Linked DNA regions of Homo sapiens: regions 2, 3, 4, 5 and 6 are each linked to region 1. The links come from fine-mapping of genetic effects on gene expression. A gene starts in region 1. Each other region holds a variant in brackets. All regions are shown on one strand. Distances are from middle to middle. Region 1 holds the start of KANSL1 (KAT8 regulatory NSL complex subunit 1). Region 2 overlaps KANSL1 (KAT8 regulatory NSL complex subunit 1). Region 3 overlaps KANSL1 (KAT8 regulatory NSL complex subunit 1). Region 4 overlaps KANSL1 (KAT8 regulatory NSL complex subunit 1). Region 5 overlaps NSF (N-ethylmaleimide sensitive factor, vesicle fusing ATPase). Region 6 overlaps WNT3 (Wnt family member 3).

Region 1 (5,088 bases):
TACAGACCATCCTGACAAATGGAAAACATATTCTAACGTACTAGTTTCCATACTTGAAAGGACTTTCAAAATGAAGTTCAGTAGCAATCTATAACTATATCATGATTATGCAAGGCAAAGATTATGTAATTTTATCGTTTATTTTAAAATGTTCTCCGACTCTAAAACTAAAACAAGTAAAACGTTTTGATCTCTCCAAAGCGAAAAGGAAAGGTTCCTCTGAGCTGCAATTTAAAAATATAAACACACACCCCAAAACAAACAAAAAAACACAATGATTGCTAGCCACGTGACAAAGGAGATGGCAACACCAGGATTGTGAATGGAGGGGAGGGAGGCGAGGCTGGAGGAAGAGAGATTTCTCGGAACTTTGGGGACCGCGGCAGTCGGTCTGCCGACCCTAGGAGCACTAAACTCCAGCCCCTACGAGTTGTGCTTCTAACACCCTCAAGTACAGTTTTATTAATAAGTCACAGAAAATGCTCCAGTGACCTCCAGGATAAAGGGGGGTGGGGGGGACCGAGGAAAAGGAAAGAGAGCAATTTAAAGTGGCGCCATCATGTCACCCCTTCTCCCCTAAAGCAATCAGTAAGCAATAGTTAAGTAGCACGTTTCTCTATAAATCCACATTGGGATTCCAACATTGGAAAACGAGGATTTTTAAGTAAGACACGGGAGTAGCGCTGTTTATCGTATGGAAAACAAACTATTTGCTAAGAATCAAAAGACCGTCAGCCGGAAAACAGGCCCCCAAAAAGGCAGTTAAGATTCCAACTCACTTAAAAGCAAATAAATCCCTCTTCCTCTTTAGTTTAAAAAAAAAAAAAGTCCGCCTGAGGGAGACTACATCTGAAAACGTAAGTGACCTGAATTTACAGGCAACAAAAATAATAAATGAAACAATCAGAGTTGTGATACAAACCGTGCAACGCGCCAAGATGTGTGTTTCGAGCAGAGAAAGGCCTTTTGCAGTCAAGAGAAGTTCAAGGCGAGAGCCAGAGTTTGTTTGGGGGGTTCTTTTACGGGAATAAATCATGTTCTTCAGGCCGCCTTTTTAAATAGAACGCCAAAGGAAAAGCTGGCGAACGAGGCGGCAGCTCCTGGGGAAGGGCCCCCGCACACCCCCGCCCTTGGGGCGACTCCCAGCCCGGACCCGCAGCAGGGAAGCCCGGAGAGGCCATTTAAAGTTCCGGGGGATTTTTCTACCCTGCCCTGCCTTTCTAGTTACAACTAACAAAGAGAGAGAGAAATGGGAGCCACAGGGAGAGCGAGGAGAAGGAGAAAGGGCAGCAGGAGGAGGAGGAGAGGAGCAGCAGCAGCACCTACCACGTGATGGAGGAGCGTAGCCCGGGCGGATTCAGCCCCACAAAATGGGCGCAGTTTGCAAACAGCCCCCCGGCCTGGGCGCCGAGGGCCAGCGGCGGGCGGGGGCGCGCGACGGCGGCTCCGGCCCGGGCCCGCCGCTCTCCTCCCCCCGACGCCCGGAGCCGCCCTGACTTTCCGGGCGGGGGGGCGAGGCAGAGGGGGAGGGGAAGGCGGCGGCGGGGAGCGGCTGCTTTTTCTTCTCTTTCGGGCCCTTTCCCGGCCTTGCTCCGCACCGACGGGGCCCGAGCACGGCTGGAGACCGCAGCCCGGCCGGGAGGGCGGGCGGGCGGGGGCAGAGAGTGAAACCGCCCCCCCGCCCCGCACAAACAAGCACCGCCGTCTGCAGCCCGAACCCGCACCCAGGCCGCCACCCCCGGCCGCCTCTTTCCAGCCGGGGAGCGCGCTTCAGCCGCCCCCCGCGCCGCCGCGGCGAGACGAGTCGGCTTCGCTACGGTGCTCGGTTCTCCCGCCGGCTCGGCGAGCGGTGGCGGCGGTGGCGGCGGCACTGGGAAAATGGCGGCCGAGCTCCTTTTCCCTCCCCCCCTTTAATCTGAAGCGGAGGGAGAATGGAGCGAGCGAGCAAGCGGGCGAGCGCCGGGGACACGGGGAGGAGGGACAGCAGCGCCTCCGCCGGCTGCGGCTGCGGCGGCGAAGGGCCGCTCCACCCCGGCGCGCCGCCAGGGGGCGCCCGCCGCGCCGCCCCCGCGGGCCGCCAGGAGGCGCGGCCGCCGCCGCCTCAGTCATGGCTCCTCGCCGTGGCCGATGTTTTTGTACCTCCATCTGCGGAGGCCGCGGCGCCCGGCCCCAGCTGCCCCGGACGTGCGGCGACGGCACGCAGCACTGCGGCAGGGGGAAGCCAGCCCTCGCTGCGGCCGAGGTGAGTCTAACCTGAGGCACTGACGCCGTCACATGCCCTCCGTGCTGGGGCCGGCGGTGCGGCTCGCCAGTTGAGGGGCAGGGCGGGCCGGCGCCGCGGAGCGAGAGGACGTGAGCGAGGAACTGTTTGCACTGTGTAGTAAAGAGGGTAAGGCCGTCGGCACCACACTATTCCAAGGCTAACCCTGCAGAAAGCTCCCTGACCAGTGAAGCGGCTTCCGCCGCCCGCCCTTTGTCCCTAGCAGCCAGCCTCCGTATACTGCAGCACGGCTGGGCACTAGCCCCAGCACCGCGCTCCGCAGCCACCAGAGTTGGGCGGGGTGGGGAGGGTGCACGTAGTCACTGCGCAGGCCCCAGCCAGGGCCCGCGCCGGGCCAGCCCGGGAAGGGACAGCCGGGAGCCAGAGGGGAAGTGATGGCCCCGCCGGCGCCGGGCCCGCTGGGAACTGTAGTTTTCGTGAAGAAACACGCGTCTTGTTTTGGGTGTCATGGCTTGGCAGATCCGCCAAAACAGGCAAATGGCATTACACAATGAGTATTTATGCTTCCTGCCGCCACCAAAAGGAAGTTCACTGCCATGCTAAAAGTTTAACAAAGAACTCCATAAAGAAACACAAGTCTCACAACAAAAAGCCAACTTCCCACCTCGTTACCAGAGTTGGTTTAAAGTGGTGGCACCTTATCATTTCTCATGACCAGTTTATCAGTACAGAACTTTATATTGTCCCCAAAATAGGACCTTTAAAATAATGGAACCTTTCCTAGACTTAAAGAATTCATAAACATAATGTAATACAAAGTGTCACACAAAGTGTAATTCTACCACCCTTTAAAGTTGCCAAAAGATGAGTGGAGTATCTTGAGATTTAAAAGACTAATCTAGGATTCATCAAAACTGGCTTAAATGACTGAAGAAAAAATCGTTCAAATCATTAAATCATCAAATTCGGCAGATAAGAAGGGTATGTATGCTCTACTACCAAAAAGGAAGACGCAAAATGCTTCACACTTTTTTGTGGCTTACCAGAACCAATATCCGGCATTATACGTCACTTCTGCTTATCAAAAAACACCCTCACAGTCGTTACAGAACGGTTTTAGTCTTCCCACAAAGTTACACTAACTCACCTGCCCCTGCAACATCTGCACCTAGGTTTCTGCGAATTTCCATTTGTACTCCTAAAATCACACTCTCAAGCATAGTCATAGTTCTCAAATACCAAAGGCAGGCAGTTTGGAGTCATAGGGTCAAATTACACAAAGAATAAACTAATATTTGTATACACATCCAAAAGAGGTCTTTAGTCTTGGATTTTTAATTTACAACCCTGGGGAAAAACTTTGACTTTTTTATTGTACACACATACACACATAAATAGTAATTCCACAAAATACAGTAGAAGGGTATTGGACCAACAGATGGCGAACTAGAGCCCCAATCTGAGGCTCCTGAAATCTAAATTAGCAGAATGAAAAATACCAAATAAGGCAAAGCCCTTTGCAGCGTATACTTAAATATTAAATTCAGACACACCATAACAAAATAATCTTACTGCTGCTCCAAATTTTTAAGACTGAACTGTCAGATTTAATTAGGCAACCAAATAAGCAAGATTATATGAAATATATTTTTCTAATGGATTAGGAGAAAACTGGAAAATGCTCATTTTTAAAACCATGTATTTGGGGGAACTATAAATTCCAGTTTCCCCTTTCTCTCATTGCTTAGTGCAAGAGTCAAGAGTTCACAGGGTTTATGGCACTTAAATCAGTCAACCTGTTGTATATTCTTATCTAAAATCAGACATCTTTCTTATTAGGCATCCACTTGTACTTTTATTTTTTTGACAGGGTCCTGCTCGGTTGCCCAGGCTAGAGTGCAGTGGTGCAATCAAACTCACTGCAGCCTCCCAGGCTCAGGCGATCCTACCTCAGCCTCTTGAGTAGCTGGCACTACAGGCATATGCCACCATGCCCAGCTGTTATTTTTTTCACTCCTTTTTGTTTTGGTAGATACAGAGTCTCCCTATGTTGCCCAGGCTGGTCTCGAACTCCTGGACTCGAGTGCTGGCATTACAGGCATGAGCCACCACACAAAAATCTTATGAAGAGAAACAAATTTTCTTAAATTTCCCCCCAAAAAATAGTGGATGTCCAAAAGGCTGATTGAAAACACCTACATACAAAATAAAACAAACAAACAAAAAAAGATTTAAAGAAAAAGGCCTGGTGCAGCAGCTCACTCCTGTAATCCCAGCACTTTGGGAGGGTGAGGTGGGAGGATCACTTGAGCTCCGGAGTTAGAGACCAGCCTGGGCAACAGAGTGAGACCCTATCTCTACAAACAAAATTTTAAATTAGCCAAGTGTGGTAGCATGTGCTTACAGTCCCAGCTACTCCAGAAGCTGAGGGGATTGCTTGAGCCTGGGAGGTCAAGGCTGCAGTGAGTCATGATCATGCCATTGTAGTCCAACCTGGGCAACAGAGCGAGACCATCTCAAAATGAAAAGTGATAAAAAAATAAAAACACCAACATATTTCAAATCACTCTTGGAATAGTCATGTTGACTCTCCAATATCCACTCTATTCTGATTAGTTTTAACCCATTCTCTTTGCCAATGATTGGTTAGGAATGGCCATGAGATGTGAGTAGAAGCCCCCTGGACAGCCTCCAAAAGAGAACTGTGAGAAAAGGTTCTTCAATCCTAAAAATGATGGAGGAAAAAACAGTCCCTCTTCCTCAGACAGTGACACCTCAAACTGCTACAGTCACCTTTGCAGCAAGCCTGAAGATGCCACCAACATCAAAGGGAATAGAGAGTTGGTCCTTGGTGATAGCATTAAGCC
Region 2 (5,088 bases), 160 kb before region 1:
CCAGCCTAGGCTACATAGTGAGACACTATCTCCACAAAAAACCCACGAAAACTAGCTGGGTATGGTGGCACATGCCTACAGTCCCAGCTACTGGTAAGGCTGTGGTGGGAGGATCTCTTGAGGCCAGGAAGGAGATCCAGGCTGCAGTGAGCCAAGATTGCACCACTGCACTCCAGTCTGGACAATCGAGCAAGATCCCATCTCAAACAATAAAAAAAAAAAGCGTGTAACCTCCTCAGAAGAAAGATGTTATAATCTCAGGCAGCAGGCAAGAACCAATCCAGGCTCTAAGCAAATTATGTATCTCACTGACCCCACCAAACCTCAGAAAAATTTAACAGTGAGAAGCAAAATCTCCTTTAAAGAGCAACTTAGAACAGATAGAAAATATCATACAGCTGACTTCACTAGAGAGAAAGTGCATCAACTGCTTTCACTCAACAAAAAGAAAAAAGAGATGATCAATGCAGATCCCCTCTCCTCCTGGCAGCCCTTACCCTCAGTGAAAAGCCACCACCATTCTCTCTCTGGTGGCCATCAGATCAACCTGCGGCGTTCCCACAAGACAGAATGGAGATTTTCCAAGGTATAGAGCAAGTCAGAGTACCCCAAAGAACGGCGGCAGAGAGCCAGCTCCGAAACTGCCAACACTACCATGCATACACAGTTCAGTAAGTCAAGAAAGGCCTGGTACACAGCATTCTGTAACTTTTTTTTTTATTTTTTTCAATTTTTCCTTCTTTTTTTTTTTTAAGCACTAGTCTGTGCTTTGCGAACAGAATCAAGACATTAACAAAGATCAGCTTCTCTGAAGAAAAGCATTTCTATAGAACAAAGACAGCTACATGTTTCGCTGCCATTACACAGCTCCAAAGCAGGAAAAGAAAATATTTACAAAATACAAGGTTTTTTTTTTCCATTTTTTGTTTTTGTTTTTTTTTTCAATGCTAAAAGGGTTATTCAGAATTTTCAACCTTATAAATAGAAGAAGCACTTTATGCATAGGGATATGGTGCATTATTGTATTTTTTTTTAAAGAAACAATGACAAACCCTTTAACTTGCAAACAGAAAAAAAAATCACTAATGTTGAAAATTGTGAAAAAACCCCAACCATTAAGCAGTTGTCTACTATTTTTATACGATTACAAAATGGCCAAAAAAAAAGAGTCTTCTCCCCCCTCCCCCTTTTTGGTGATGTGATCATACAGGAGACAGGCACAAGGTTAACAGAGAAGGGTGAAGGGGGAACAATGGGAACCACAGCTAGGACCAGACAATGTTCCACAGGCAAGGGGAGCGTGAAAGACCAAGAGTGGAACTAACACCGACAGGGATCTGGATGTGAAGGAAACATGGCAAAGTGAATCAGAGGGAAAAAAAAAAAAAATCACACAGGGAGATGGCTGCTCACTTCCCACAACCCCCAGTTTGCAGGGGAGTGGGAATAGAGGTTAAGTAGTCCTAACCCTACCTTCAAAGATCAGGATAGGTGGTAAAAATATTCCAAGTGGAAGGACGGGTTGTGGGTGTGTACATGGCATGGGAGAGCAGACAGGGAAGGGTACCAAGGGGCATGAGGAGGGGAACCTGAGCAGCCACAGCCAGGTTACTGCAGTGAAAGAGTCAAAACAGAGAAGACCAAATGCAGATGAAACAAAAAATCAGTCTCTTAAGTTCTGGGTGAGAAAGGAAAGGTGTTCTGCCAGCTGAGCACTCGGGGAGAGCAGCTGGCAGTTATGGCAGAGAGGCTCTGGTGGGGATGTTCCAGCACGAAAAACCAAGGGGACCCAGCCAGGAGGGCCACAGCAGAGCCAAGCCACAGATGGGAGGGGAGGGGGTAAGAGTCCAGAGCACCCTGCCCCATTCCACCCTAGCTCAAGAAGGCCATGCTAAACTGTAGCCCGCCAGGCTGTTCTGCCCTGCCCACAGGTGTGAGGGAGGGGGTGGTCATCTAAGATCAGTAAGTCCAGTGATTCAACAGTGCAGAGGATGTGCCAGGACCAGGCCAGCAGGGTCTCATCCTGAACTTCTGTTTGCCAACGGGAGGAAGTGCTCAGGTGTGTGACAAGAAAACATGGAAACAAAAACAAAACAAAAATTAAAACAAGAAAAAAAAATACCAAAGTAGGATCTAAATTCCTTAAGTTCACTAAAAACTGTGAAAATTTCCGGCATATGATGTTTGAATATCAAACGCAGAGATTTCTGAAGCTTTAATGCCAATAGTTAGTGAGTCTGTTTAGATGGCTGTCTCCCGCTCATCTGTGAGTCGGGCGCTGAGCTGTGGCTGCTGCCACCAGATGCCGACTCTTGAGGGGGACAATGGGAGGCGAGGTGGGCGCTGCCTCTGTCTCCCGGCCAGTCTTGCTGCCTGAGGTGCGTCGAGTGCAGCGGGCTGCTCGCTCCTGTGCATCCAGCTGGTCCTCACACTCCGCCTGGGGACTGTGCGCCAGGGGGAAGGTCCGCCGCTCCCAGGGCTGGACAGACTGTAGGCAGACAAGTTGCTCTTTGAGGACCCAGTCCCAGCCAGCCTGCTTCCTGCTCCAAGGCCCTGCCACAAACCTTGTGGCCTGGAGCCTAGGACCAGTCTATCTAGTGTTCCTGCGACAGTCTGGGAACACCCCTCCTAGGGTATACCCAGACAACTGTATT[G/A]ATCATTTAGCAGTGATCAATACAGTTCCACTGAACGTTGAGGAGATCAATTTAAGTGCAGCCCTTTGTCCCTTCAAAAGGGGGAGGGGATGGCTAGGTCCCTCTTCAGCAGATGCTGCCCCTTCCTGGTTCCATCCCCCAACCATGCCAACCCCACCCAAAGGCTGCGTCCCTTACCTGTTCATCCAGCCCCAGCTCTGGTGTGGAACAACGGGTATCCTCACTGGCTAAGTGTCGCGGAGTGTCCCGAGCCACAGGGGTGAGGGGTGCTGAGTGCAGTTCCGGGCTAATGGGGCTCCTAGGGGACTGACCATGGGAGTATTCTGACAAAGAGTGGCTACTGCTGACATCAGGGGAGGCAGGCTGGGGGGTGGAGGGGTTGGCACTGCCCAGCTGGGGGGTTGTCCGGCCGTCTGATGACCTGTAGGACCTGCACACCAAGGAATGCAAATCTGAGTGCCTGGGAAATGTTTACTTATGGGGGTAGAGGGCATGAAAAAAGCATCCCCACTGGAGGAGTTGAGGCAAACAAACACCAACAGATTTTCCTTAGGATCCAGCAACTCCCATTTCTTCCCACTATTCTCTGGAGGGGTAGGTATACAACATTTACCATCCCAAGAAAAAAGCATGGCTGAACAATGCCAGGTGAGTCCATAGCAAAGTGCCTAGTGAATTCAGGAGGTTAGGGAGATTCGTGTAGACTTTGAAAACTGTAGTCAAAGAAAAAAAAGTAAAAGTAAGAGCTCCCAAAACTTTCTACTTGAGAATCCCGAGGGTTTCTGCCACTGTTAACAATAAATGGAGACAGGGTAGTGATGGACGTTAAGGGGGGGCAGTTTCTTCAAGTGGCATCACAAAGCCACTGTCCAAAGGAAGGTTAACTTGTAGCGAGGCCTTCCAAGCTCCCCGGGTTGAATCACCATGACCCCCCAACTGTCTTCCAAATGCCACAGATCATGGGAATTCAGAATTACATAGTGACTTCTCAGCAAGGATCTAGCACTTGGCTCCTTATATCTCCACTAGTTCCATGTATCTCCACTAGTTCCAACAAACACCAAGGAAATTCTGAGCTATTTGCCACTGCCAGTAGATGAGTATGATGAGCAACCAAGAGGCAGTAGCAATTCCATGGACTCAAGTAGGGCCCAAACTCCCTGTCCACCCTCTCTCCACAGGCCCTGGGGACCCAAGCCTGCCCCATCACCTGCTGCCCCGCCGCTGGGGTGGCACACTCGTGGTCCACAGCCACCGTGCCCTCTCCATCTCCTCACATTTGGCATGCAGGGCGGCGAAGGCTGCGTCGGATAGGTCCTCAATCTGCAATAGAGCAGCTTCATCGATCCCCTCTTTTCTCCAGGAGTTAAGAACCAGTCCCACCCCATTCTAGGTTCTTCCCGGTCACGACAGGAATACAAGGAGCTTGCACTTCACACCCACAAGTCTTCAGGCCATTTAGGGTGTGTGCACTCATATGTATGTGTGCATGTGTACACACGTGTTCTTCTAACAGAAGAACCAGGCCATTACCTCTTCATTCTCCTCATCAGGACTCCCCTTCAGAGACTGAAGATCAACCTCCCGCCAGCTGCAAAACCAAGAACAGACAATCATGAGATGGCAAGCAGGCTAAAACTGGGGGCAGGGTCAAAGTGTCCATGCAAGGATGAGAATCCTGCACCTGTGGGTGACACTGCTCTCTGCCGGGTAGGCTCTGCCCTATCACAGCTCAGTCTCCCTACCCTGTCAAGGCCTGTGAAATTGGCCACCTACTCAAATGCCCAAGAAGGCCAGAAATGAGAGAAGCGGCCTAGGGTAAGGCTGAGGCTGAGAGACTGTGACAAACACAAGAAAAGAAACCTGTTTAAAGAGGACCACCACTGTTCAGGACCAGCTGATTGCTCCCATATGGAAATGCATACCCAGGGTTGCCTAATCTTCTGTTTGGCAACAAAAGCTGGAAACAAAGATTTTTATGTGAAATCCTGCTTTGATGTTGACAACAAATTCAGTATTTTAAAACATACTGTATGTGTTGACAAAACCGGTCTCTAGACCAGTAAGTGAATGGCCTACCAGGCTGTGACTGCTGGTTCGTTTGGTGTATTCCTATAATGGAATGAGAGAGAACTATATACAGAAATAATTTCGTTCTTATCAGATAAGAATTTCTCTTAATGAGAAGACAGAACCAAAGACTAGGGCCCAACTCTTGGTCAGAAGAGAAGAGGGAAAAAGGGCAATAGCAGGAAGAATGGGGAGAGGAGCCAACTATTCTGAGCTTCTACCTGGGCGTAAGGATTTCCTTGTATTGCAGTTTCTCTACGCGAGTTGTTGCAGCAACAGACATTGGGATGACAATGTTGTTAATATCAAATGAGCTCTCTCCCCTTCTCCTCCTTACTGGCTGCTGCTGTAAGATAAAAATTAA
Region 3 (5,088 bases), 140 kb before region 1:
GGATTACAGGCGTGACCCACCACGCCTGGCCCAGACAAAACATTTTTAAAGATATACTAAGCGTATTTTGGACCAGATTACTGTGGCTAGAGGCAACTGAGCCCAGATCCCTCCTAGCTACTTGAAGAGTTAGAAGGAAATCTCATATTAAGTTGCAACCTTTTAGTGGCACCTTCTGGTTTGGTGGATCTGTTACAGTCTTTTTGCAAAATTCTAAGAGAAGACTTGGTTGACGAAAGTTGTACCTTGAAAGTATCTGAGTTGTAACTGCACCTTGGCTGATTTTCTTTCACCTAGAAGTCTCTCAAGTTTCTTTCATTAGACTTTCTAGTCTGTGGTCTTTCTTACCATCTGGAAATGCTAGAACAGGATGAACACAAGAGTCCAACTGGGAAAGACGTTCCAACAGAGGGGCTTCATAGTGAATTTCGGGAGGCATGGTGTTGATGCTGCCTGAACCACACAGTGCGCAGGAGGGATTCACATCACAGCCAGGGCGGATTGTGCTGTTCCGGTGAACCTGTGAAAAAAGCCAAACAAAACTGACAATTCAGCATCTGATAAAAAGCCAGCTACCCATTTGTTATCCCCATTTGTTATTGAGAAGTTAGCTCCCCATTTGTTATTGCGAAGACCTTTCTAGATACTTGTGTGACACTACTAAAAGGATGTTTGATTAGTTTGTTAAAAGATTTCCATTTGTCTAACACACTGACCTTCAAAGTGGGTAAGGAAACTTGCTTCCTTTTCATTGATGAAATCTAACTACTTGAAGCTCTAAGTGCTTACCTAGGTATCAAACTTCTGACAGTTTAAAAAGATACTAAAACTGTGCTTTCTGAGAACACTTTATAAACTCTGCATGCTTTCACGACCTTGATGGTCCGCTAAGACGAACAGTTGGTTCTTGATTCCCAGGTGGGACATTACTTGCTTTCTTCAGCAAATTTATCCACCTAGGAGCCTTCAATTACCAACCACACCTCTTCTCTTCTTTTCACACCTCTTCTTCAAAAGACTTTCAGGTGGTCTCAAGCCAGGTGGCAAGCTTCCCTGAAGCTTGTAACTTAAAAGTAACTTATTAACTACTCTTTAACCTGGCCTAAAATCCACTGTTACAAAGCTCATACCTAAGTAATAAAATAACATTTTGTACAGCAAATGCTCACTTTCATAGTCTTCATGTTAGATTAATTCCAAAGGGTAGAAATTATTTCCACTGAACTTCCTTTGTGCACATGTGGGCAGAATAATTGATAACCTCTCCAGGTAAGTCCAAAGTTAAATATGAACTAATTTAAGTCTTCAAAAGATTGAATTCTGTATAAAAACTGAACATCTACAATTTTATACTTTGAGCAAATTTCAGGTCATGCTGAATGCAGGATCCCTACATTCTAGTGTTAGGATGAACAAGTCTGGCATTTGCCAAAGCCTAACTCATAAAGTCACCTGGACACACAGCCCCAGAAAAAGAAACTTGCATGTTGAATGGCACTATAAGAAGGCATCCTAGGTGCAAGCTCAGTAGTAGAACAAAGACAAAAAGCATCAAAACTCTACTAGCAAAAACTCTAACATTTACTAGAGCTCCATTTATTTTCAGCAGAGACATCTCGAAAGCCTTTTATGGATTTGTGTAAGAGAAAGATATACATAAGAACAATGTGGTCTTTATCAACATTCCCCCGACATTCTATTGTAACCACATAGAGAGGTGGCACGCAAATAAAGTCTTTTAAAGGTTAGACTGGGCAAATCACACAGAACTAGAAGCCACTGAAAGGGAGTGATACCAACTAGGCATGCTACTTTTGTGTAGACAATATTAACTGGTATTGTTTTGGGAAAAAAAAAATCCCTGTATCTATGTAATCAGAGCTGGCTTTCTGGAGAGGATGACATTTTGAGGTAAAGAGAAATGAGTAGGTAGAGATGAAAATGAGATCACACAGTGGGTGAGTGGGAGGATTTAGGAAAATTGGTTAGGATCCAAAAATTACACTGAAACTTTCAATATTCAAAAGAGATTATCTCACTCCAGTAGGTATAGCAAATAAAAAATAAAAAGAGAGAGACTAGAAACCAACCCATGACATCAACTAGCTCTCCATATGGGACATTTAACAACACTACATTTTATGGCTAGAGTGTATCACTTAAGTCAAAGTCAATATTGGGAGGCCAAGGCGGGTGGATCACTTGAGGTCAGGAGTTTGAGACTAGCCTGGCCAACATGGTGAAACCCCGACTCTACTGAAAATAGAAACGTCAGCTGGGTGTGGTGGTGGGAGCCTGTAATCTCAGCTACTCGGGAGGCTGAGGCAGGAGAATCGCTTGAATCTGGGAGGCAGAGGTTGCAGTGAGCTGAGATCACACCACTGCACTCCAGCCTGGGCGACAGAATGAGACTAAGTCCAAAGACAAGCAAACAAACAAAAAAACAAAACAACAACAATAAAAAAATTCAATAGATGTGGCTAGGCGTGGTGGCTCACAACTGTAATCCCAAAACTTTGAGGTGGGAGAGAGGATTGCTTGAAGCCAGGAGTCTGAGACTAGCCTGGGCAACACAGTAAGACTCCATCTCTTAAAATAAAATTTAAAAT[T/TAAA]AAAAAAAAAAAAAAAAAAAATTTAGCCCAGCATGGTATTGCATGCCTTTAGTCCCAGCTACTCAGGAGGCTGAGGGAGAAGAATCGCTTAAGCCCAGGAGTTCAGGTTATAGTGAGCCATGATTGCACCACTGCACTGCAGCCTGGGAAAAAGAGTAAGATCCTGTCTCCAAAAAAAAAAAAAAAAAAAAAAAAAAAAAAAAAAAAAAAAAGGCTGCGCATGGTGGCTCACGCCTGTAATCCCAGTACTTTGGGAGGCCAAGGTGGGTGGATAACCTGAGGTCAGGAGTTCGAGACCAGCCTGGCCAACATGGTGAAACCCCGTCTCTACTAAAAATACAAAAAACTGGGCATGGTGGTGGGCACCTGTAATCCCAGCTACTGGAGAGGCTGGTAAGAGAATCACTTGAACCTGGGAGGCAGAGGTTGCAGTGAGCTGAGATTGCACCACTGCACTCCAGCCTGGGGAACAAGAGCAAAACTCCGTCTCCAAAAAAATTTAAAAATTTAAAAAAATAAAATAAAGGGTAGAAATTCTACTTATAACTTGACAAAAGGGTAATGTGCACACATGTAACTTAAACAGTAATCTCACTTTTAAATTAAAAACTGTAAAGTACTAATAGAACCCGAGGAGTATATAAAAATATATTTAATACTTATTTTTTTTTTGAGACAAGAGTCTTGCTCTGTCACCCAGGCTGGAGTGCAGTGGCGCAAGTCTGCCTTCCAGGTTCACACCATTCTCCTGCCTCAGCCTCTCAAGTAGCTGGGACTACAGGCGCCCACCACCACACCCAGCTAATATTTTTGTATTTTTTTAGTAGAGACAGGGTTTCACCATTGTTAGCCAGGATGGTCTTGATCTCCTGACCTCGTGATCTGCCCGCCTCGGCCTCCCAAATGCTGGGATTATAGGCATGAGCCACCGCACCCGGCCAAAGATATATTTAATACTTATTAAAGGATACATTTTGGAAAATTTTTGAAAGAAAACTTGAATTCATACCCATGTTGCACAAATCCACACCAAGAATCTATCCTGCAGACAAACTTAAGTGTACACACGCACACGCTCTTCCACTGAAACAAGATGCCAAATCATCTGCATGAATTCATTTAAGTTAAAAAACAACAAGAACACATACAATATTGTGTTTTACAATAAGAAAACAAATTTTTAAAAATATCACAACAGATGGTGTGCATGTGTAGCCCTAGCTATTTGGGAGGCTGAGGTGGCTCACTTGAGCCCAGGAGTGAGGAGCTATAGTGATCATGTCCACTGCACTCCAGGCCTGGGAGACAGAGTGAGTCAGTCTCTTAAAAGAAAAAAAAAACAAGGATCTCCTGGGCTCAAGAGATTCTTCTGCCTTAGCCTACCAAGTAGCTGGGATTGCAGGCATGCACCACCACGCCCAGCTAATCTTTTATATTTTTAGTAGAGACGGGGTTTCACCACGTTGGCCAGGCTGGTCTCAAACTCCTGACCTCAGATGATCCACCCGTATCAGCTTCCCAAAGTGCTGGGATTACAGGCGTGAGCCATCGCGACCGGTCCCAGTCATGAAATCCTATTGGCAGAATCCAACCACTTCATACCACCTCAACTACACTCAATCTAGTCCAAGTCACTATCTTTTCTCAAATGGGTTTCTTCAAGCCTCCTAACTGATCCTCCTCCTACTGGTTCTTACTTCCAAATCAATCAACACAGTAATCAGTGTAAATCTTGTTTTAAAATCTCAATCACATCATACCAACCTCATAATCTTCCAAATGACTTCTCATCTCACGAGGAATAGAAACCAAACTTCTTGCATGGTTCCCACAAGGTCCTATAGTATTTGTCGCCTCTATCCCCTCTCTCTGACTTCACCTCATTTTTTTGTTACTCTCCTAGCTGACACTACCAGTTACTCTGATTTCCTTGCTATATTTCTCCAAGATAGCAGGCAACCTTCCAGATCACAGGCCTCTGCACTTGGCTCTTCAACCACTAATTCCATGGTCATTCTCTCACATCGTGTCTTTTTCTTTAAATGTCAGTATTCAAAGTAACTTTTTTTTTTTTTTTGAGATGGAGTCTCGCTGTCGCCCAGGCTGGAGTGCAGTGGTGGGATCTCAGCTCACTGCAAGCTCCGCCTCCTAGCTTCATGCCATTCTCCTATCTCAGCCTCCCGAGTAGCTGGGACTATAGGCGCCCGCCACAACACCTGACTAATGTTTGTATTTTTTGTAGAGACAGGGTTTCACGGTGTTAGCCAGGATGGTCTCGATCTCCTGACCTCGTGATCCGCCTGCCTCAGCTTCCCAAAGTGCTGGGATTACAGACGTGAGCCACCGTGTCCGGCCCAAAGTAAGTTTTATTTAGAAATACAAGTGAAAGGCCAGGCGCGGTGGCTCACGCCTGTATTCCCAGCACTTTGGGAAGCCAAGGCAGGTGGATCACCTGAGGTTAGGAGTTCAAGACCAGCCT
Region 4 (5,088 bases), 110 kb before region 1:
TTGCAAAAGACAGTTATCTTGTACACCACTGCCTTCTCAAAACGTTGTATTCAACAGATATTCCCTACTTAAGGGCCCAAACTGTCTTCCTGCTTCCTGTACAAAGCATGCCAAAAATCATTTTATTATTCAAATTTTCCCATAACCGGTTCCTAAGAACTTTTTTAAAGATCAATTTCCAACTACTTTCCCCAAATATTTGTTAGTGTTATACCAATCTCATCATCTCCTAGACAAATGTTTCAATGAATGTGAAGCTGTTGCTGCTGCTGGAGGTAAGGGTTATTAGTCAGTAGAAGGTTAAAAAAAACTGAATTAAAGGTTAACACATGAGCTGTTCATCTTTATTTATACTCATTTTTATATTTTATCAGTCCAAATTGCCGTTCGTCCTTCCAAAGAGATTTTCAACAAGTCCCACCTCCTTCCAAGAAAATGTCCCGGGTTAATGAGTTCCTACTTGCTTTATCCACACTGCCAGACCTCCTAAAGCACGGTGATTGTATCTTACTTTCTGTGTATTTAAATCTCATTTCCAGAGCATTCATAATCTTATGCCACATTATTTATTTCACTTATTATTGCCTCAGTTTCTTGTTTGTTGAGACAGGGTCAAGCTCTGTCACCTGTGCTGGAGTGCAGTGGTGTGGTCACGAATCACTGTAACCTCCCCCTCCCGGGCTCAAGTGATCCTCCCACCTCAACCCCATAAATAGCTGGGATAACAGGTGCATGCCACCACATCCAGCTAATTTTTGTATTTTTTTGGTAGAGATGGGGTTTCACCAAGTTGCTCAGGCTGGTCTCGAACTCTTGGACTCAAGTAATGCACTTGCCTCAAACTCCCAAAGTGCTGGGATAACAGGTGCAAGCCACCACACCCAGCTAATTGTTCTATTTTTTGGTAGAGATGGACTTTCACCATGTTGCCAAGGCTCGTCTCAAACTCCTAGACTCAAGCAATCCACCTGCCTCGGCCTCTCAAAGTGCTGGGATTACATGTGCAAGCCGCTGCACCCAGCCTTTAATTGTTAACTAATGTTAGTTTATTGAAGATGTGGACAAAATACAAATATATTTAAATGACCCATGTCCCTTAGCAGAGTCATACACCAAGAAAATAAATGCATAGCAAATATTTGTTGAGTTGTATAATTTTTTTCCTAACAGGAAAATATTAACTTTATAATAATTATAGCCAGAAGATAAATAAATCTAACAATTAGATATAAAATTACTCCTTCAATTTTTCTTTTTCAGTTATATGAAAGTAAGGACGCAGTCAGTATTTTCCAAAGGGAAGAATTTTTCCTTAAACTACAGAATAATTTCTAAATACAACCCTCAGATAGATTATGAAGACATCTCCTAAGAGAGTATAATAAAACTTGGTAGGGACCATCTATTCATCGACATAATTTTATAGACCCACAGAGGATGTAGGTCAAAGCTTATGTCTCTACAGGCCAATACATGGCAGAACTGGGGCAAAAGTCTGCATCTAACTAATATTTCATTCCTCTTTTGTTCAGTTAATTAAATCATTTATCCGCTCATCAGCATTTGTTAGGTACTAAGGATACAAGAAAAAATGAGAGACCTATCCCTCTCCCCTAACCCATCCTTCAAAGTGCTTATTACGTTCTAATACTGCGGCAAAGAAAAACAATGTAAATAGGTAAATGTTATGTACTACATTAGAAGGTATTAAATGCTAGAGAGAACAAAATATAGGATAGTGAGGGGATTAAGAAGTGGAAATGGTGGGGTTGGTCGTGACGGCTCATGCCTGTAATTCCAGCACTTTGGGAAGCCAATGGAGGAGGACTGCTTGAGGCCAGGAGTTCAGGACCAGCCTGGGCGACGTGGCAAAACCCTGTCTCCACAAAAACAATAATAATAAAAATTAGCCTGGTGTAATATCACACCTGTAGTTCCAGATATTCAGGAGGATCACTTAAGCCCAGGAGAGAGAGAGAGATACAAGTGGGAGGGGGTACTACAGGCGCATACCACCACGCCTGGCTAGTTTTTTGTATTTTTAGTAGAGAAGGGGTTTCACCATGTTGCCAAGGCTGGTTGCAAACTCTTGGGGCCAAGAGATCTACCCGCCCTGGCCTCCCAAAGTGCCGGGTTGCAGGCATGAGCCACTGTGCCCCTGCTTGAATGTTTATTTGAAGACAGAATCAACCAGCTATGCCAATGTGCTTACAAGATAGGAGGGAAAAGAGTCAGAGACACTGCCAAGGTTTCTAGCTTCCACAACCAGAAGAATGGAACTCTTCTTCATTTGTTCAGAGGACATTTGAATACACATTAGTTTTAATTAAACCTATTTTTGAAAATATGTGCTCAAGTGTTACACTGAAGCAACCAACAATCATCCATACACTGTCCATTGCCCCCAAGATATGTAAGTTCACTATGGCATTCAAAACCAAACACTGGATCCTCTAATTTAATACTGTACCTCACACCAAAAAGGATGAAAACAGCTAAAAAGAGGCTGAGCAAATAAAAAGCATCCAAGTAGGTAAGAGTCATTCATGCAGGTAGCATCTATTGAGTGGCTACCACGTGCAAGGTAGTGTGAAAACACAGTAATAAAATAAAAACAGATTCTACCATAAGGAGCTTATGTTCATCTAGCCTTGAACAGACAAAGAGACAAAGTATTATGACAGTACTATAACAGAAGTTGAGAGAAGGTGATGTCAGAGCAGAAAAGAGCCTAACTGAAGAGAC[T/C]GATGAAAGTGAGGCTTTACAGAGGAGGTCTACATAATTACTTAACATTCCCCAAAATATATTTAATATATTTTGAGCTATACTTATTCATTAACTATACACTTAATGACTTTGCCCTTTTCTGTATACAATGTTTCATATGCCACAATAACACTTATTTCGGATAAAGTTTACTCATGTTTAATAACCATGAAAAGAAAGGTTAGCATTAGCTGAGAAAACTTCATAATGTTCTACTCCACACCTGTCATGCTACCCCAACATGGGCTTCCCTAACATTCCAGGTTTAAACTGGGTCAGTGTTGAATAGCTGTGCCATTAGCCTGGTGGCAATAAACTTAGGGCTGCTGTACTATGAAATAGCAACCGGTAGAAGCCGAAGAAAAAGGTCAAGAGTCTCCTTTTCCTTCGCCATGTCCCGAGTCAGAGCCAGGATCATGCTTAGGCTGCACAGGCCTAGAAAACTCCAAGAGTGAAGCAAGCTTCTGCTTTACACAAGGACCAAAGGAACTGGAATGGGTCACAGTTACATGCAGCCTTAATACCTCCTAAGTGACTCCTCTGTGGATGAACCCTCTCTCAACTGTATTTGCAATACAGCTAACAGGCAATTTCACATACTTCCTTACATCACTCTATCAGGTCAATCTTCCCTATGCATCTCAAGACAAACCAGTGACCCCACTGCAGACCAGTTCCACAAGAATCACCCTGGGCTACCTGGAAAAGATAAGTTGTCTAAAGTGCTTTAAAAAACCCTATTAAGATGAGAACTTCAACAGCTTTATGAAAATTTTGAAGAGAAAGGTGTTATAAGCTTCTGCAGTTCCCATTCAACTCCTTCCCTATTCAAAAGTTTCAATGCTCTTCCACCTCCCATCCTCAATAACATTTCCATCCTCAGCTACAGCTGTGTAATCTCAAAGAGTAGTCAGAAGAGGAGATTTTAAAAAACAACGTAAGAGTCAAGCCAGTGCTTCTGGGAGGCCAAGGCAAGGAGGATCACTTGAGGTCAAGAGTTTGAGACCAGCCTGGACAACACAGCGAGACCCCATCCTTTAAAATAAAAAAAACCCTTTAACAATTAGCTAAGCATGGTGGGACTTGCCTATGGTCCCAGCTACTTGTACTTGCAAGGCTAAGGTAGGAGGATAGCTTGAGCCCAGGAGTTTCAGGTTACAAAGAACTATGATCTGGCCATTGCACCTCAGCCTGGGCAACAGAGCAAGACCCTGCCTCTTAAAAACTGCTTAGTCCCTATTCTTTCCCCTCATTTACCAGGTGTGAAATTTCAACAAACATGTTTCAGTGAAATGATGAAAAGGACACAACAGCAAAGTATGTTAGAAAAAAAATGCTTTGGAATCAGATAAAAAGTCCTGAGTTTAAATTTAGCTCTGCCTTTTACAAGCCTCTGAAGATTTATTCTGATCATTAAACGAACATACATGAGTAAACCTTTAATTAGTATACACTCAAGGTACGTATATTGTTTTCGTTTCTCCTTCTAAAGCATGGAAGAGTTTCTTTTTAAAAAACAAGCTGACAAACTATGAAAATTAAAAGAGTACAACAGCATGCAGAAGTAGTACAGAGGAGTTCCTAGAAGTTATATTCTTTCTCCAGAGAGCAATATTATTCCCAAAAGGGACTCTACTCACTTCACAGCTTGGAAGGTAATACCTACCTTCTGACAGAACAGAAACTGGTGTCTGGATCCTAGAATCACCTAGCAGTAGTCACAAATACTTTTTTTTTTTTTGGTAATACGCCACTTAAATAAAATTAATGTTAATAAGCAACAAAGTAAATCCTTAAAAAGAAAAGCCCCACCATCCCTCCAATCTCCCACCCGAAGACAAATTATAACTCAACAGCCTATCACCAAGATTCAGCCTATCACCTAGGTTCATCTCAAAAAAAAAAAAAAGACCTGTGCAACCCAGGAAGTGCTGGGAAATCTTGGTGCAGCATGGAAAATATGAACACCAACCCACTTAACCAAAACACATAGGAAAAACTTTCTTCCATTTCAGTAACTAAAAAAAAAACCCAAGCACTTAAAGTGATTACTAACTTGAGCAATAGCTCTGCACTCACTTGGATGTGTAACCATGAACAAACTACTTGACTGCTCTGATCTTCCATTGTTTATCTTGAAAATCGTGAATGAGAGTAAAATGCTTAGCACAGTGCCTGACATATCACAAGTGCTCAAAAACTTCTATTAATTATAGTGTTACATAAAGACTAAATGCATGTGAATATATCATTGGGGGAAAATTCCATGGCTTGTTAGAGCAAGTTGAATATTGTCTCTTCCAAATTTATGTTCACCCAGAA
Region 5 (5,088 bases), 560 kb after region 1:
CTGTCAGTGAATTATCCAAGATCACATCACCAGGTTATTGATGGAGAAGGGATGGTGTTGCACCTCAAGTCAGTAAGCGACTGCACATATACCAAACGGTGTCTGGGAGACTGCTTTAAGGGACAAGTTAATTAAGTTGTGCAGTCTAGACTTGGGATCTGTATATTTGTCCCTGGCTGGGCTCCTAGAAATTTCATGCAAACTACTGTAGGGTTGAAGCATCCAGAATCACATAGAAAACTGAGCCCCAGGGTGCTGCCTGGGCAAAGACAGATGAAACTTCTTTGGGACTTTCTCATATCTCCTGGCAACTTACCTTTCTTCATTTTAGAACTCCACCCTTCCATGTGCCCATGCTGTGTCTTCTTGTCCTTATCTGACATACTAGGTAGCTGATAAATACCTCCCTATCAAGCCCTATGAGTTCAGAGACCTTGGCTCTTACTATTGAGTCCACAGCCCCTGGAACAGAGCCAACACATATGAAGGTGCTCAGTAAACTTTTATTATTATTATTATTATTTTGAGACAGGGTCTCGCTCTGTCTCCCAGGCCGGAATGCAGTGCCATGATCATGGCTTACTGCAGTTTTGACCTCGCAGGCTCAGGCGTTCCTCCCGTCTCAGCCTCCCAAGTAGCTGGGACTACCAGCGTGTGCTACCACACTCAACTAATTTTTGTATTTTTTGTAGAAACATGGTTTCACTATGTTGCCCAGGCTGGTCTTGAACTCCCGAGCTCAAGTAATCCGTCTGCCTCAGCCTCCCAGAGTGCTGGGATTACAGGCATGCACCACTATGCCTGGCCCTCGGTAACTTTTTTTCTTTTTTTTTCTTTTGAGACGGAGTCTCGCTCTGTTGCCCAGGCTTGAGTAGTGGCATGATCTCGGCTCACTGCAGCTTCCACCTCCCGGGTTCAAGGGATTCTCCTGCCTCGGCCTCCTGAGTAGCTGGGATTACAGGCGCCCACCCACCATGCCTGGCTAATTTTTTGTATTTTTAGTAGAGATGGGGTTTCACCATGTTGGCCAAGCCGGTCTCGATCTACTGACCTCAGGTGATCTGCCCGCCTCGGCCTCCCAAAATGTTGGGATTACAGGTGTGAGCCACTGCGCCCGGCCAGTAAACTTCTGTTGGATGAATAACTGTAAATTCATTTTACAGTTAGGTAAATGGACAGAGTGGCTGTATTCTAGGCATCATGTGTTACTAGGTGTTACTAGGTCCATCTAGGTGGACAGAGTGGCTGTATTCTAGGCATCATGTGTTACTTACTGATGGTCCTGCATTCTGCTAGTGTGGGCAGTGAGCGGCAGAGGTGAAGTTTCTGTTTCACAGTTACATCTGAAATAGGCTCTTGGACCAATAACAAATTGGAAACGTGAAGTGAATGCTTTTTAATCTTTTCTGGTAAATTTATCTGAAAATAAAATTTTTTTGACTTTCAGAAATCTAATTTAATCTACTGAGCTTTCAGATGGACTATTTTTAAGTCAATTAATTTATTTTCCATTATGAGCCATAAATTAAAGTCACAGACTAACCACTTTGTTTAGACTTATTCTTGGTAAAAGTGCAAATACAGGTGTATTGGCTCTTTCCTTGAAAAAAAGATAAATCTGTCAGATTGTCAGCTTCTTTTTTTTTAAGTTTCAGTATAATTTTTTTTCAATAATTGCATAGAAGAAACTATGTGGATTTTTTCCCCAACCCTCATCCCTTTCCCTTCCTTTGATGCCTGCAGGTCAGTGATCAAGTTAATGCTTCTTATGCATGTGGGATAGAGAGTGAGAGTGGGGCACTCAGGCCTGATCTTCAGCGACTGACATTTCATAGGCCTCTGAGTTTGAACCCCTTCATGTCAAATGGATTTCGTGCAGCTGAGTGAATTCTCTTTAGATCTGCCTTAGAGAGGCTGAACCTAAGTGAAGAGGCATGTAGTTTTGCAGAATATAAGTCGTGGTACCTCTCTGTTCACTACATGCTATTCTGTTAAAACTTGCACAGAGCTGAGGATCTGCTCTGACTGGATGTCACCTGAGGGAATAAAGTCATTTATCTAGATTACTTTTTTCCTCCCTTTCTCCTGACTTTTAATTCCATAGCTACAGGCAAGTCAGTAAGTTGTTGCTCACACATATTAAATATATTTAATGGGCAAAGAACTGCAAGTACCAACTACAACTGCGCTCCAGCCAGTTCTTTTTTTTTTTTTTTTTTTAAGAACTTGACAATTGATTCATATGTAATTCTATTCCCAAAAAGGAAAAATGTTTCTTTTGTTAGCTATTCACACTTTTTCTTAGTCCTTTGTAGTCTGACCTCTTACCTTTGATACATTTGAAACTTCTGTTCAGTGTTTTTCTGGGATAGAAGAAATCTTAAAAAAAAAAGAAAGAAAAGAAAAAAAAATCCGTGGTTGGAGTGGGAGTCCAATTGCACATCTCCCCACAGCTGCACTGAGCATTTGAAAGTTATTCCTGGAGGGCAGGGAGTTCCCTCTTGGGAAACAGACTCCTGCTCTGAAACATATTTTAAAAGTTAGGTGTGTTTCTTACAATAAAAATTCATCTTCAGGAACTAAAGATGTTTTTAACGATTGTTTTCTAGATAACTTCATATCTCCTGTGGGCCTACGAGAATAAAGTACATTTAACGAGTTAGTATAAATATGAATAGAAAATGAAAACCAGTCGAGATAGCTAATAATAACGACCTGAACGAAGCACCTGAAACAAAGTTGCGCCATCTTTTCTTAGACTCATGACACATTCGCAGTCACAGGAGACCCAGATTCATCTGGAGATGATTTCAGGAATCAGCAGTACTCTTCATTTTTTTAGTTTTAGCACAACTTTGTTACTACAAAGAAGAAACTATATGACGGATACTGAGGCTAAGAAAAGCTACATGGTTGGTTATGTAGAGTTAATAAGCTATTTTTTAGTTGTTGAATTAACCTCAACTTGGTATCTTCTACTTTGCTGTGACTT[T/C]AGTAGCCTTTTACACCTTCAACAGGTGAATTGGTTGTCATTTGAACTCTGATGAATGGCCCTGTCCAGTCTCACAGCGATGCCTCACAGGCATCAGCACAGGGCACGCCTGGCCCAAGTGCCTATGATGGCCAGCGGGCTTGGGTCTTTTGGAACCCAGTGTACATAGTTCTGGAAAACCCCATTCACTTCCTCCAAATGATGTGATCTGCTTTGTTTTGTGTGAGAATGCTGGTCAAGGAGCAGGTAACACATTCAGTGACCTAGCAGAGCATTGATGAAGTGTGAAACCGAACACTGCCTTCTCATGAAGCAAGTGCAGAGTTGTTAGAAGGTACCATTAACCCATCTTCATTTCTTCTGATGTATTTAGATGGATCCTGAATACCGTGTGAGAAAATTCTTGGCCCTCTTAAGAGAAGAAGGAGCGTAAGTACATACAACATTTAATGACCATCAACCAAACTTACCACCCTGTTAAATCCCTGTGCCTATTCTAAGAGTTGCTTTCCTAGATAAGTTTGTTTCCATTTATTTGAATTCTTCGCTGTGTTGTAGGTCCGAGAGACCAAGCAAGGAAGTTGGTTGTACTGTTGGTTTGCTCTCCCTGTCCTGCTTCGCAAAACTTCCTTGTCACAATGCAGGAAAAACTTAATGGTACATATTTATTGGAACCTGCTTTTACATGCATGGAGCTGTGACCATTTTCTTTTGTGAAGTGCTCATCTAATAGCAAATGCATAGTGGGAAATGTAGGATAACCATTAAGAAGCTTTTAGTGATTTTTTTTTTTTTTTTTTTGATGAATAGTTTTTTACGGACCCTCATCTGTTTTTTTGTGTTTTGGTATTTCTTTTGCAGTAGCCCCCTTGATTTTGATTGAAAATGAACTATTTGAAACACACAGTGACCAAGGGAAGTGACCAAGGTGAAGATGGCCTAGGATCTTCACTGTCTTACTCAAGATACTGGACTAAGTGGAACGTTCTCTACCTTCAACATGTGCTCGCTCTGCATGATTAGTGCAATAAAACTCCCTTCCTTATGCATACTGAGATAGCTTAGTGTCTCGTGGAAGGTGTCAATTTGGTTTAGAATGCTGCGCTTACCTTCCCATGCAGGCTAAAGTGATTCCTTCTTGCTCAGTCCCTCTGGGTGGGAACCATCCAGTACTTGTGGACACTACACGTTTCAACCTCTCTACTAGCACCATCACCCTTGAAAACTCTCAGTCAGTGTCATGAATGTTGCATGACAACAGTTGGCCGATTAGAAGGCAGACTTTCTACATGCAAATCTGGCTTAGTAAATCGAGGTGTGGGCCAGAGATCCTCTGACAGCTGTCCTGAGCTAACACTAAAAGTCACTGGGTATTTGGTTAAAGGTCTCCCACAAGACTGGTATTCTCTTTGCCTGAAGAAACAAGGCATTGAATCTCTAAAATGCTGTTCTCAATCATTGTCAGAGATGTTTTCAAGTTGCAGTCAGAAGATCTTTCTTAATAGAAAGTCAGATGACTACCGTGTTGGTTGTGACTTCCCCTTAAGTATAACTAATTTGCTCTGTGGTAAGAGATATGCTCATTATTACCACTTAGAAGATGTTGTTAAAAACATGTGAAAGATAGGTATGGAAAAAGCATACACCCCCAAACAGAAAGGAGTTATTAAAGTAATTTACAAACCTCTCAGCACTAATTAGTGTCCAACTCCAAGTGGGTCAATTCCTTAGTATAATATTAAGGCTTACTAGTATCACTGCTTTTTCCTTAGCTTAATGACTTACTTAGAATTTATCCTTTATTTTAAATGATCTGTACTATCTAGTGTCTAAAACACTATTCTCCAGAAAAATCAATCATTTTCTAGCCCTCTCCCTCAGTCCTTTATTGTCCATTCCAATACATTGAACACATTTCCTTTACCCTCCACACACTTCTTCCAAAAGGAAGCACCCGTTGAGTCCTTTTGAGGGTGATTTGTCTTACAACTGACTGACTTAGCAGGAATTTAATTAGGTCATATTTGGTGATGAGACTTATGGAGTGTGCCTCTCTCTCCCAACTGCTGCTTAAAATGCAAGGACAAGCAATTAGA
Region 6 (5,000 bases), 590 kb after region 1:
TGTCCTCTGAGAACAATTCCTGAGCCTCAGTCATGATGAGCTGTTTTCCCTCTTTCCACCAAACCCTGTCTCCTTCCTGTTGCCCAGGTCCCACCAACTGTGGACCTGGGAGCCATGGTGCCAGGGTCCCATCCAGCTCTACCACTTCCTAGCTGCTGATCTCAGCAATTTTCTTAACCTCTATACCTCAGTTTCTTTATCGGTAAAATAGACACGACAGGAGGAATAAGTGACACAATCCAGTGCATGGCACGTGGGGAGCCCTTGCTAGATGGTGGTTGCTATGGTTACGGTGTGTGTGGAGCTGTCCCCAGCACTTTGTTCCCTGCCTTGTCACCAACCTCATTTCTCCCATCCTTGCATCCCTGACTTGGTAGAACACATCAGAAATCTCAGCCCCTTCCTATCCAACACTGGAAAGGATGCCTGGATCAGACCTCAGTCCTCACAGGGGTGGCAGAACAAAGACAGTTGTGATCTGGATGAGGGTTCAAGGTCACTCAAAGAGTGCAGGCAAAAGGACATTTTCAGGATGCTCCATTCAAAGGCTTCAGTTCAGATGGGGTCATCCTGCGAGTAATTAGCAAGGCCTCTGGCGATGGGGCTTAGCTCCTGGGCCAGTGTCGGAGACTAAAGAGGCTGTGGCCATGGGATTGATTTCTGCAGGATGGCTGCCCTTCCCCAAACATGCCCGGCCACCCCCACCCTGAGCCTCCTGCCCGCACACTGCTGAAATTCCACCATCGCAGACACATTACTTTAACTCGCCACTCCTATTCCCCATTATTGAAGTACACGTTCCACTTCGGGAGGCGGCACAGTGACTCTCATGCTCCTCGATTCTTTGTGCCAAAGTGTGCGTGGCTTTGACGGATTTGCCTAGCCAGCTGAATGACTCCAGCGGGGCTGTTTCACACTTCTGCACATTTGCACATGCTGAGCCCTCGGCTCGAAGCACCTCTCCACTGCCCGGCCCCCGGCAACCATTCTACACCATCCTTTGAAACCTGATTCCTAGGTCACCACCATTCTAAAGCCTTCTGTGAGCTCCAGACAGAAGTCACCTCTCCTCCGCCTGAATCTTTCCTGTACCTAATTCAAACCTTCTTATCCCAAAGTGCTGAACTGATTTGTTTCCAATTCCATCTGGCTATGCCAGTCTCAGTCTCCAAGAAGAGAGGTAGTGGTAGTGTTTTCTCCAGTTATTCCCCGGTCCCTACCCCATCACACACACACACACACACACACACACACACACACACACACACACACACACCCCAGCCCACTCGGCCTTCCAAAGGGCCGGGCACATGCTAGGTATTCATGATTCTGGAGGAAAGGAATGAAGAACTCTTCCAAAGGACGAGCCTGATGCCCCTCACTCGCCAGACCTCCCGGCATCCGGAGCTTCCGCCTACACACAGGACAAGACTCCTTGGTTCCGCTGAGGAAGTTCCTACGTTTAGGATCTGAGATGATGGCCAGGCTCCCAAGGGGGATAGAGACCTGCCTGGCACTGACAGCTGGTGAGGGGGAGGGCGGAGGACCCTGCCAGGCCTTCGCAGCTGGGCCAGGGGCTATTTATACCCAGCTCCTGGCCCGGCCCTTCCCTTCCCTAGGACCCTGCCACCCTCCTCCTGAAGCCGGCTCATCCTCCACTCCGACCACCCACTGCCCAGCTGGGCCGAGGACACACACGGGCAGCCAGGCGGATGGGCTGCGGGTGCCCTGCACAACAGGCTGCTTGTGGAAACTTTGGTGTTGACCCCTTGGAGTGAAATATCCCTCCACAAATAGGCAAGACCTAAACCTTGTGCATGGCCTTATCTAACTCCCATCCCCACCCCAGTTCTGTGCCTCTACCCTGATAACGCCTGCTGTGGCCAGAGGGCTGCAGGAGGCCTGCATGGTGAGCACAAGGCAGAGAGGACCTTTTTTTTTCTTTTTTTGAGACAGAATCTTGCTCTGTTGCCCGGGCTGGAGTACAAAGCGTGATCTTGGCTCACTGCAACCTCTGCCTCCCAAGTTCAAGTGATTCTCCTGCCTCGGCCTCTCAAGTAGCTGGGATAAGAGGCATGCGTCACCATGCCCAGCTAATTTTTGTATTTTCAGTAGAGACAGGGTTTCGCAATATTGGCCAGGCTGGTCTGGAACTCCTGACCAAGTGATCCACCTACCTCTGCCTCCCAAAGTGCTGGGATTACAGGCGTAAGCCACCATGCCTGGCCATAGAGAACATTTTTAGAGAACATTTTTAATCAGTGAATTCAGGTCAGCCTGGATGCTGCATTGACTTACGCACCTAACATATGGTGAGACACCTAAAGGCACCCTGTACAGTGCGTCCTGCCTGATCTGACACTGGGGTTGTTGGCCTCAGATGCTGCCGTCCACCCAGTGACGGCCAATCCCCTGCTGATGGGGGTCTGACTGTGCTGCCAGGGACACCCACTGTGCTGCCAGCACCCACTCCCCTGAGTGATCCATTAGGGTAGGCAGTCCTGCACCCAACCAGGTGGCCTCCCAAATGGAATCACACACAATCTCCCTCCTCTCCCCTA[C/T]ATACAGAACATATGAAAAGAGGGCCCTGTCCCTCAAAAAGTTAAACATAGAATCACCCTATAATCCAGCAATGCCACACCTGGTATACGCCCAAAAGAATTGAAAATGGGGACTCTGCCCAGGTGCGGTGGCTCACGCTTGTAATCCCAGCACTTTGGGAGGCCGAGGCGGGAGGATCACGAGGTCAGGAGATCGAGACCACGGTGAAACCCCGTCTCTACTAAAAATACAAAAAATTAGCCGGGCGTGGTGGCAGGCGCCTGTAGCCCCAGCTACTCAGAGAGGCTGAGGCAGGAGAATGGCATGAACCTGGGAGGCAGAGCTTGCAGTGAGCTGAGATGGCGCCACTGCGCTCCAGCCTGGGTGACAGAGCAAGACTCTGTTTCAAAAAAAAAGGAAAGAAAATGGGGACTCCAACAGACACCTGTACACCAGTGTTCACGGCAGTGCTACTCACAGCAGCCAAAAGGTAGAGACAACCCAAGAGTCCTCAGCAGATGAATGGATAAACAACAGGTGGCCCATACATACAGTGGGACCCTATTCAGCCAGAAAAAGGAAGGAAGCGGGTGTGGTGGCGGTAATGCCAGCATTTTGGGAGGCTGAGGCGGGTGGATCACCTCAGGTCAGGAGTTCGAGACCAGCCTGGCCAACATGGTGAAACCCCATCTCTACTAAAATACAAAAATTAGCCGGGCCTGGTGGTGCGTGCCTGTAGTCCCAGCTACTCAGGAGGCTGAGACAGGAGTATTGCTTGAACCTGAGAGGCAGAGGTTACAGTGAGCCAGTTGCGCCACTGCACTCCAGCTTGGGCGACAGAGCAAGACTCTGTCCCCCCAACCAAAAAAAAAAAAAGGAATGAAATTCTGATGCTTCTGATGCAAGCTACAACGTAGAGGAAACTTGAAAACAAGCTAAGCGACAGAAGCCAGACACGGAAGAACAAATACTGTATGATTTCACTTACATGAGGTTCTAGGTAAAGACACGCCAGCTTAGGCAACAGAGTAAGACTCTGTCTCAAAAAAAAAAAAAGGAATGAAATTCTGATGCAAGCTACAACATAGAAGAAACTTGAAAACAAGCTAAGCGACAGCAACCAGACACATAAGGACAAACACTGTATGATTCCACTTACATGAGGTGTCTAGGTAAATTCACAGGGACAGAAAGTAGAACAGAGGTTGCCAGGGGTTCTGGAAGGGAGGGAGTGGGAAGTTACTGCTTAATAAGTACAGAGTTTGGGATGATGAAAACAGACGGTGGTGATGGTCACACAGCATTGGAATGTACTTAATGCCACTGAATAGTACACTTTAAAATGGTTAAATAGCAAAATTAAAAAAATCAAAGGAGGGATGGTGCTTGCATCCCCAGCCTTCAACTTCGCATCTAGAGCCCCTGTGCAGGACGAAATTCCAGAGCCCCGGGTCTAGTCTAATTCCCTCTTCCTCTATACGGGAAGATTGAGGCCCAGAGAGGTTTGTCATTTTCCGGGGTCACACAGCTGGCTGCCCAGGAGGTGGGAGGAGAACCCAGGGCTCACAGTTCTTTTACCCACCAGGCTTTTAACCTGGGGGTGATGAATGCACATTCTCAGAAGCTTCTCTGGGGCTGGGCACAAAAAGGACCCACCTGGCTTCACATGGGTGGAGCTGCAGAAGGTGGACCCAGGGGCTGCGGCCCAGGGAAAGGCTCCCCTCCTCCCTTCGGTCTCAGGGTGCTCTCCAGGGCCAAGTCTCCCCAAGTCATGCCTTCTTTGCAGAAATAGGCCCTTTGCCCTTACCTTTCTCCATGCGGAAATCTAACCATCTGTGCCAGCCTCAAAGGGAAGGCATCTTAAGACTCTGATCTGAAGATCTAGTGTCTCTTAAAATGACTGACATGGCTGCTGAGAGGGAGAGGAGGAGGGAAGGTGAGGAGAAGGAGTCAGAAATCACCTCTCCTGTGGTCATTTTTCTCTCCCTGTGGTGGGGGCCACGGTGCTCCTGTCAACCCCACAACAGGCCAGGGCCAGGTGCTCCACCTGCTGGCTCCTGGGCAGTACTGGACAGAGGCCCAACTTGTTCCTGGGCCCAGAAGGGCTCCACCCTCCACGGAAACTTCTAGAAGGGAAAGGAAAGGTTTGAGGAAAGAGCAGGAAGTGAGGAACCAAGCGTTGGCTTTGGAACTCAGGCCTCTACCTTTCCACTTAGGTCAAGAAGCCGTTCAGGATTGGCAGATGTCAGGACAGGAAGCCTAGCCAGTTCAGGGGCATGTGTGCACACCGTGGGGCTGGGCCTGGTGGGCTCTGATGCACCCAACTACACCCATAGTGACGAGGCAATCACTGCTGTGGATGAGGGAGGCCACAGGCCTGGACTGGAGCCGCTCACCTGGCTGCTTGGCAGGGAGCTTGTGACAAAACCAGAGAAACCTAGCTCAGGATTCCAGCTGCC

What was found. PIP is the estimated chance that this variant, and not a neighbour inherited with it, causes the effect.
Region 2: its variant is fine-mapped to the expression of KANSL1 in tibial nerve (GTEx, PIP above 0.99). The same link has a PIP of 0.9 or more in whole blood.
Region 3: its variant is fine-mapped to the expression of KANSL1 in monocytes (Quach 2016, PIP 0.95).
Region 4: its variant is fine-mapped to the expression of KANSL1 in whole blood (TOPMed, PIP above 0.99).
Region 5: its variant is fine-mapped to the expression of KANSL1 in whole blood (INTERVAL, PIP 0.91).
Region 6: its variant is fine-mapped to the expression of KANSL1 in whole blood (INTERVAL, PIP above 0.99).

Annotation. Positions count from the first base shown.
Region 1 is chr17:46,191,497-46,196,584 of GRCh38, forward strand. KANSL1 (KAT8 regulatory NSL complex subunit 1) reads right to left here and starts at 1,933. Exons shown (of 15, transcript NM_015443.4): 1 at 1,327-1,933. It overlaps KANSL1-AS1 (KANSL1 antisense RNA 1), which reads left to right and starts at 2,077. Exons shown (of 2, transcript NR_034172.1): 1 at 2,077-2,242; 2 at 4,872-5,088.
Region 2 is chr17:46,029,216-46,034,303 of GRCh38, forward strand. It overlaps KANSL1 (KAT8 regulatory NSL complex subunit 1), which reads right to left. Exons shown (of 15, transcript NM_015443.4): 11 at 4,946-5,070; 12 at 4,188-4,245; 13 at 3,865-3,977; 14 at 2,832-3,084; 15 at 701-2,488. The coding sequence ends at 2,261. Among named protein-coding and RNA genes, the nearest start is that of STH, 33 kb to the left of the region's middle. The variant G/A (reference allele first, on the strand shown) is at 2,655.
Region 3 is chr17:46,050,185-46,055,272 of GRCh38, forward strand. It overlaps KANSL1 (KAT8 regulatory NSL complex subunit 1), which reads right to left. Exons shown (of 15, transcript NM_015443.4): 7 at 349-520. Among named protein-coding and RNA genes, the nearest start is that of STH, 53 kb to the left of the region's middle. The variant T/TAAA (reference allele first, on the strand shown) is at 2,610.
Region 4 is chr17:46,084,905-46,089,992 of GRCh38, forward strand. The region is part of intron 3 of KANSL1 (KAT8 regulatory NSL complex subunit 1); the gene reads right to left. Among named protein-coding and RNA genes, the nearest start is that of STH, 88 kb to the left of the region's middle. The variant T/C (reference allele first, on the strand shown) is at 2,746.
Region 5 is chr17:46,751,949-46,757,036 of GRCh38, forward strand. It overlaps NSF (N-ethylmaleimide sensitive factor, vesicle fusing ATPase), which reads left to right. Exons shown (of 21, transcript NM_006178.4): 20 at 3,366-3,421; 21 at 3,854-5,088. The coding sequence ends at 3,875. It also overlaps a transcript of LRRC37A2 not described here. Among named protein-coding and RNA genes, the nearest start is that of WNT3, 64 kb to the right of the region's middle. The variant T/C (reference allele first, on the strand shown) is at 2,993.
Region 6 is chr17:46,777,829-46,782,828 of GRCh38, forward strand. The region is part of intron 1 of WNT3 (Wnt family member 3); the gene reads right to left. It also overlaps a transcript of LRRC37A2 not described here. Among named protein-coding and RNA genes, the nearest start is that of WNT3, 38 kb to the right of the region's middle. RefSeq lists an enhancer at 4,154-4,840. The variant C/T (reference allele first, on the strand shown) is at 2,562.